2 linked regions of the Homo sapiens genome follow. The protein of the gene in region 2 interacts with the protein of the main gene of each other region in a pairwise test. Each region holds a gene or a part of one and is shown on either strand. Other genes may lie near its edges.

The links.
Region 1: the proteins of CCDC74A (region 2) and SH2D1A interact in a two-hybrid assay, tested with the Homo sapiens proteins (one large-scale study listed by BioGRID and IntAct).

What each region holds. Positions count from the first base shown.
Region 1 is NC_000023.11:124,349,563-124,353,062, reverse strand, and holds part of SH2D1A (SH2 domain-containing protein 1A), read right to left. Parts: intron 1-3,500.
Region 2 is NC_000002.12:131,530,888-131,534,166, reverse strand, and holds the end of CCDC74A (coiled-coil domain-containing protein 74A), read right to left. Parts: intron 2,587-3,279; coding exon of another isoform or gene 2,561-2,586; exon of another isoform or gene 2,545-2,560; coding exon of another isoform or gene 2,504-2,544; coding exon 2,365-2,503; intron 1,579-2,364; coding exon 1,386-1,578; intron 1,304-1,385; coding exon 1,230-1,303; intron 1,155-1,229; coding exon 1,098-1,154; exon of another isoform or gene 1,093-1,097; intron 899-1,092; coding exon 769-898; 3' UTR 501-768; downstream 1-500.

The sequences.
Region 1 (3,500 bases), on a different chromosome or scaffold from region 2:
CAGGGGATTTGAATATTTAGGATATTTATCACCTCAAACATTTATCATTTCTATATGTAAGAACATTTCAAGTACTCTCTTCTAGCTATTTCAAAATACATAAGATATTGTTAACTATAGTCACCGTACTGTGCGACTGAACACTAGAACCTATTTCTTCTATCTAACTGTCTGTTTGTACCCATTAGCCAACCTCTCTTCATCGCCTTCCACCCTTCCCAACCTCTGGTAACTATCATTTTACTCTCTATCTCCATATGATTGAGGAATCCCACTACAGGGTATCTATCAAAAGGAAAGGAAATCAATATATCAAAGGGATACTTGCGCCCATACATTTATCACAGTACTATTTACAGTAGCCAAGATATAGAAGAGTCCAGCAACAGATGAATGGATAAAGAAAATGTGCTATGCATATACAATTGAATACTATCTGGCCATTAAAAAGAATGAAATCCTGTTATTTGCAGAAATGTAAATAGAACTGGAAGTCATTATGTGAAGTGAAATAAGCCAGGCACAGAAAGACAAATATCATGTGTTCTCACTGGCATGTGAGAGCTAAAACATTTGGTCCAATGAATTTTTTTTAACTTAATAAAATGATTCTAGATTTCATTTTGAAGAACCAACAGATAAGAATAGCAAATAATTTTTAAAATATATTAAAACATTATCATACTATAGTGCTATCAGTGCAAGAATAAATGGATCAATTGAGACAAATAGATAGTCCAGAAACAGTAACTGTTATATATAAGAATTTAATATATGGTAAAGTCGGCTAGCAAATCAATGAAGAATGGAAGTTGTATTTATAAATTATATTAGGACAATTGCTAGCTATCTGGAAACAAAATCAAATTAGATCTTTTATCCACATCAAAATACAACTCCAAATGGAATTAAAGAGGTAAATGTAAACTAACAAAACCGTAATTTAAAACAAAAACTGCAGTGAAGTTTTATGACATATCTCAAGGGGAAAGGACTTTCTAGCCAAGGAAGAAATCAAACACAAAGAAAACGAGTGACGTATTTGACTACTAAAAAGTTTGATTTTTGTATGTGTCAAAAAAAGTAAGGGCAAACACCAAACTTAGAAAACATACCTTGCAACAGATCAAGGATTAGTATATATATAAATTTACAATGTGTTAAAAAAGTTTGATTTTTGTATGTGTCAAAAAAGTAAGGGCAAACACCAAACTTCGAAAGGATACCTTGCAATAGATCAAGGATTAGTGCACATATATATATATACACATAGAGTGTGTTTAAAAAAAGTATGATTCAACTGGTTAAATGAGAAAAATACACAAAAAGCCAAATCATGGGAGGAAATACAACAGCTTAACAACCATATAAAATGACAGTCACTAACCAAAGGAATATAAAATGTGGAAAATAAAGAGATAGAGTGTAAATATAAAATAAAGAATAACAGGCCAAATGTCAAGGGAAAATTTTCTTAACTACAATACCCACTTCTAGTGAGGGTGTGGTGAAATGGACACTGATGCATTACAGGTGAGCATGTAAATTGGAATAACCATTTAGGGAAAATATCTCATGATCATGTATATATCAAGAATCCTAAGCTGTTTATGTTTTCTGACCTAGAAATTCCACACTGGAAATTCATTCTAAGGAAATAATCATAAATGCAAGGAAACTTTAATGTACTGAAATATACATCCTGATGGAATTTATAATAACAAAAATATGGAATGAGTCAAATGTCTAAAAGTAGGTGACTGGCTAAGCAAAATATGGTATACTTACTAGCTAGCTGGACTACCATGCAGCCATTAAAAATAACATCTTAAAGTTGTCTCTAAGAACATTACATATGAGTGTATTTTTTTCATATTAAGTGGGAAATGGGAAACGTATACAATTGTAAGAATACAAGAACACAATCATATTTTTAACACATGTAAATTTATATATAAATATATATAAATATATATTTATAATAATATATATAAAAATATATATTTATAATAATATATATAAAATATATATATTTATAATAATATATAAAAATATACATATTTATAATATATATATAATATATTATATCTTATATACAATATATAATATATTATATCTTATATACAATATATAATATATCTTATATACAATATATAATATATTATATCTTATATACAATATATAATATATTATATCTTATATACAATATATAATATATTATATCTTATATACAATATATAATATATTATATCTTATATACAATATATAATATATTATATCTTATATACAATATATAATATATTATATCTTATATACAATATATAATATATTATATCTTATATACAATATATAATATATTATCTTATATACAATATATAATATATTATATCTTATATACAATATATAATATATTATATCTTATATACAATATATAATATATTATCTTATATACAATATATAATATATTCTATATTATACTATATAATATAGTATATAATATACTATATATAATATAGTATATATTATATATTATATATAGTATATAATATATATTTATATATTATATATAGTATATAATATATATTTATATATTATATATAGTATATAATATATATTTATATATTATATATAGTATATAATATATATTTATATATTATATATAGTATATAATATATATTTATATATTATATATTATATAATATTATATATAATATATATTTATATATTATATATTATATAATATTATATATAATATATATTTATATATTATATATTATATAATATTATATATAATATATATTTATATATTATATATTATATAATATTATATAATATATATTTATATATTATATATTTTATATTATATATTTATATATTATATATATTAGATATTTATATATATATAAATATATAACATTTGGTGTTTGCCCTTACTTTTTTTGACGCATACAAAAATCAAACTTTTTAGTAGTCAAATACGTCACTCGTAAGAATACAATTGTAAGAGCACACGTGCTCAAAAAGCAATTCATCTTATTAAAATATAGAAGAAAATTCACCTAATTTTTAGCAATAGTCATCTTTAGGTTATAAAACTATAGATGATTTTTCTCTAATTTCTATTATCTATATGTTTCAAATTTTCTATAATGAATAGGTATAAGGAACTATTTTTAATAGACTTATACAAAAATCTATATTTATTTAGAGAAAGTAATTGAAAGAAATACTTATTACTTAAAATGAAGGTGAGCAATCCTATAAATGGAAAACTCCTTTAGTGCTTTATGAAGCAGTTCAATTTTCGATTTTCTAAATCAGAACAGAAGAAAAGGCCATATCTGAAAGCCATGATTAGGAGGTTCAGAACTGGGGAAAAGGGCAAGCATCGTTTGAAAGTACAGTTTAAAGTACAGTTTGAAGGCATATGAAATGTATTATCTCTACAATAAAAATATAAAAACTATAGCTCAATTAAATCTTCTTGGTTAATAGGAGTA
Region 2 (3,279 bases):
CAACGAAGTGGGGCCGTGGGCCTGGGAAGACTGTGTGGCTGGCTGAGGGTGGGCAGTAAGCTGGCCACCCCACCCCCGACATGGACATGGCTGTGCTATGGCGGAAGGGGTGGTGTGGGCATGGCCACAGCACTCGAGACAGCCCTCCGAGGAGGAGGGCGAGCCTGGCTGGACCCCCTGTCTGCGGTGCTGTGTCAGGGCAGGAGAGGACAGCCTCTTGCCCCCAGGAGTGTGCAGTGTGGGCAAGAGACAGAGTGATCATGTGTTTGGAACGCAGCTCCAGCCCAGCCAGGGGACCAGAAAAGCCCTCCCGCTTCCAGGGAGGATGTGCATGGCTCTGCCAATGCCTATCTCCCAGGGCCGCTGGCAGGTCCCAGGATGCGCAAGACTGGGCTGCCCAGGCAGGTCCCTGCAGACAGCAGGGCCTGGGCTAGAGGCCAAGGGCTGGGACTGGGAAGGGACGCGACGCCTGATAGCCAGTGAGGAGCCAGGCACACAACTTGGAAATAAACAAGCTTTATTTTCAGTTTCAACAGGTAAGGCGATACCTGCTTCATCGTGTGCTTTTATGTAAATGCCAAATAGCAAAATAACAGCTAGAAAATAAACAGTTTGTCAGTTTGGAGATCAAGTACTTTATCTATCTTGAGTGTTATCTGTCTTGGAATTTAGCCAGGCCTAAAAGTAGCGGAAGTATCAGGAAATGCTATAGAGAGCCAGTCTCCAGCTGCAGGTTGGTGGGCCTGGCACTGACCAGATTGGGGTGGCTCAAAGCACTGAGCGATGCAGGCGCCGTTTCTGCATTGCCTGCAGCCTCTTCTGCCTCTCGGCAAAGTTGTTCTTCGGGGTCTGCTTCAGTGCGGGCAGGATGGCACGCTCCGCCACAGGTGGGCTCAGGCTGGGGCGGGTAGAGGGACTGTCACCGTGAGCATCCCCGGGAGTGGAGTGTGTGGGGAGTGCGGCCTGCATGGCCCTCACGGGGGCACAGAGAGGCCTCAGCGAGCTCTGCTTCTGCGCTGCCACCCTCCCTTCCCCACTCCCTCCCTGGGGCCCAGGCTGCAGGGCTGCCCCACTGTCCCCATGCCTGTGGGACTTACCATTTCTTGGAGAGGCTCTTGGTGGAGACCTTGGGGAAATGCGTGGCTTCTTGGTCCCTGGGTGAAGGAAGAGTCAGCAGTGAGCTGTGGATAGGACCCCAGGGATGGGGCAGGGGTGCACCAGGCACTCACCTGGGAAAGCTAGCTTCCTCCGGGGCTGCCTGGGGCCTCTGGCTCCCTTCCAGGAGGGACTTGAGGTGCCGCAGCTGAAAGGCAGGGGCAGGGGCATGGTGGGGCCTGTGGCGGTGCCAGACTGCCCAGGGCCACCCCCACCACCCAGGGCCTCACCTCTTGGGTCTGCAGGAGGTTGGTATTCCACAGCTCGCGGATGAGCACTTCGCACTGCCTAAGTGTGGTGGGCTTTCGCAGGGGAAGGGGCAGGATCATTGGGGGGTGTGCCCCCGCCCCCATCTGCCTGCCCTGGTGCTGGCTGTTCCCCATACAGGCAGCTCCTGCATTAGAGGCCTCTGCTTTCTCCTTTCTGAAACAGTCATTGCAGCAGCCAGAGGTGACCTGCCCAGGTGCGTCTAACCACCCACCCAGCATACCTCCCCAGGCAGCGCCCAGGCCAATGTGGGGAAGAGGGCCTGGTTCCCCTCTCCCACTGAGCAGGGTGCTCTGGGCACCAGGTGGGGGTCTCTGGGACTGGGGCCTGTCCCTTTCTCCCCTCTGAAGGTGCCCTAAGGGTCAGATGGGCTTCAGTGGGTGACCAGCTAGCTGCCAGGCTGCTCTTGATCGTGACCCCACACCCAGTGGGGCATCTTGCTCCAGGCCTGGTCTTGGGATGTGCAGATGCAGGAGCCTGTCCTGCTGGTTGCGCTGCTGAAAGTGTGCACTCTGTAGCATCTCAGGGCAGTCCCGCAAACTCAGGGATCACCAGAACCTGTTCCTACTCTGACCTGCTGGCCTAGTGCCCTCCAAAGGCAGGCTGTGGCCAGGGGCAGCAAGCCTTCTCTTGGTAAGAATATTACTTTACTTTTCTCTGAGGAAGTGGTTTAGGGGCTGCTACTGGCCCCCCTCGTGGGCTCAGGTCAGCACAGGTACTCTGCAGGACCCCCAGGGGAAGGGAGGAAGACAGCGCCCACCGATGGGTAGAGCGTGGCCGTCATCTGCTATCATGAGCCCAGGAGACAGGCCCCTGGAGCTAGGGGCAGAGCAGTTGGCTGACTGCAGGGCGTGAGCCTAGTAAATGTAGTCATGGGGCCCTTAGGGTGCAGGCAAGACTTACCTGGCCTGCCCTTGCACCCCAGGAACACCCAAGCCTTACCTGGCCTGCCCTTGTACCCCAGGAACTTTGTCCAGCTTGCTGTTGTGAAGTAGGGGCTCCTCTTCCAGGTCCGCCTTCTGGGAGACGTCAGCTTTTGAATCTTGCTTGTTGAAGGAGCCGGGCTGGGGCCTGGCCTTGCCTTGAGAGTTGGCTGCAAGTCAGACCCTACAAGGCCGGTCACTGCAGGCACCAACAGTCACCGCCCAAGTTTTCCAGGAACAGCTGTGTGTACCCAAGAAGCCCCTGTCCCTGCCTCAGTTTCCTCCTCTGTAAAGGGAAGCCTGCCTTGGAGGGTTCTGGGGGGAATCAATGTGGTTCTGAGGGTGAAGCCCATGGGTGGTGCCTGTGAACACTCTAGAACAATCAACATAGTGGAAGCTGGCCCCATCTTGGGTAAAATGAAACTGCATGAGAGGCTTGGGACCCAGCCTGCATGGGTTTCCTCGGCAAGGACAAGGCCCGTCTAGCACCTGGGCCCATCACAGGAATGGTGGGGGTTAGGGCAGGGCTGAGGAAAATGCCCGGCCTCACAGAGTGGGGAAAAGAGGCTCTCTGCTCCCGGCTCACTCTGCAGAAGGTGCCATGAGCCCAGGGCTCCGTGGGCAGTGCCATCCCTCCTGTGTCCTGCCTGCTTGTGGCAGGGACACGGCCAAGCAGGGCTGCTGCTGGGCAGCCAGGGTACATCCTCCCTAGAAGGCCACCCGGGGAGGCCCCTCCTGCCTGCTTGCTGCCCCGCCCTGGGGTGCCTGCTGTGAGGCCTTACTGCCCTGTGACTGGTCCCTGGTCCTGCCCACCCCCCCTTAATCCCCTCCCGGTGGCTTCAGCTTGCAGGGCTCTTTTCAGCTGCACCTTCATCCCCAAATCCTGGAGCTTGGCCCAGCAGAGGGCGCCTGGTCAGCACCCCTAGAGGCCACC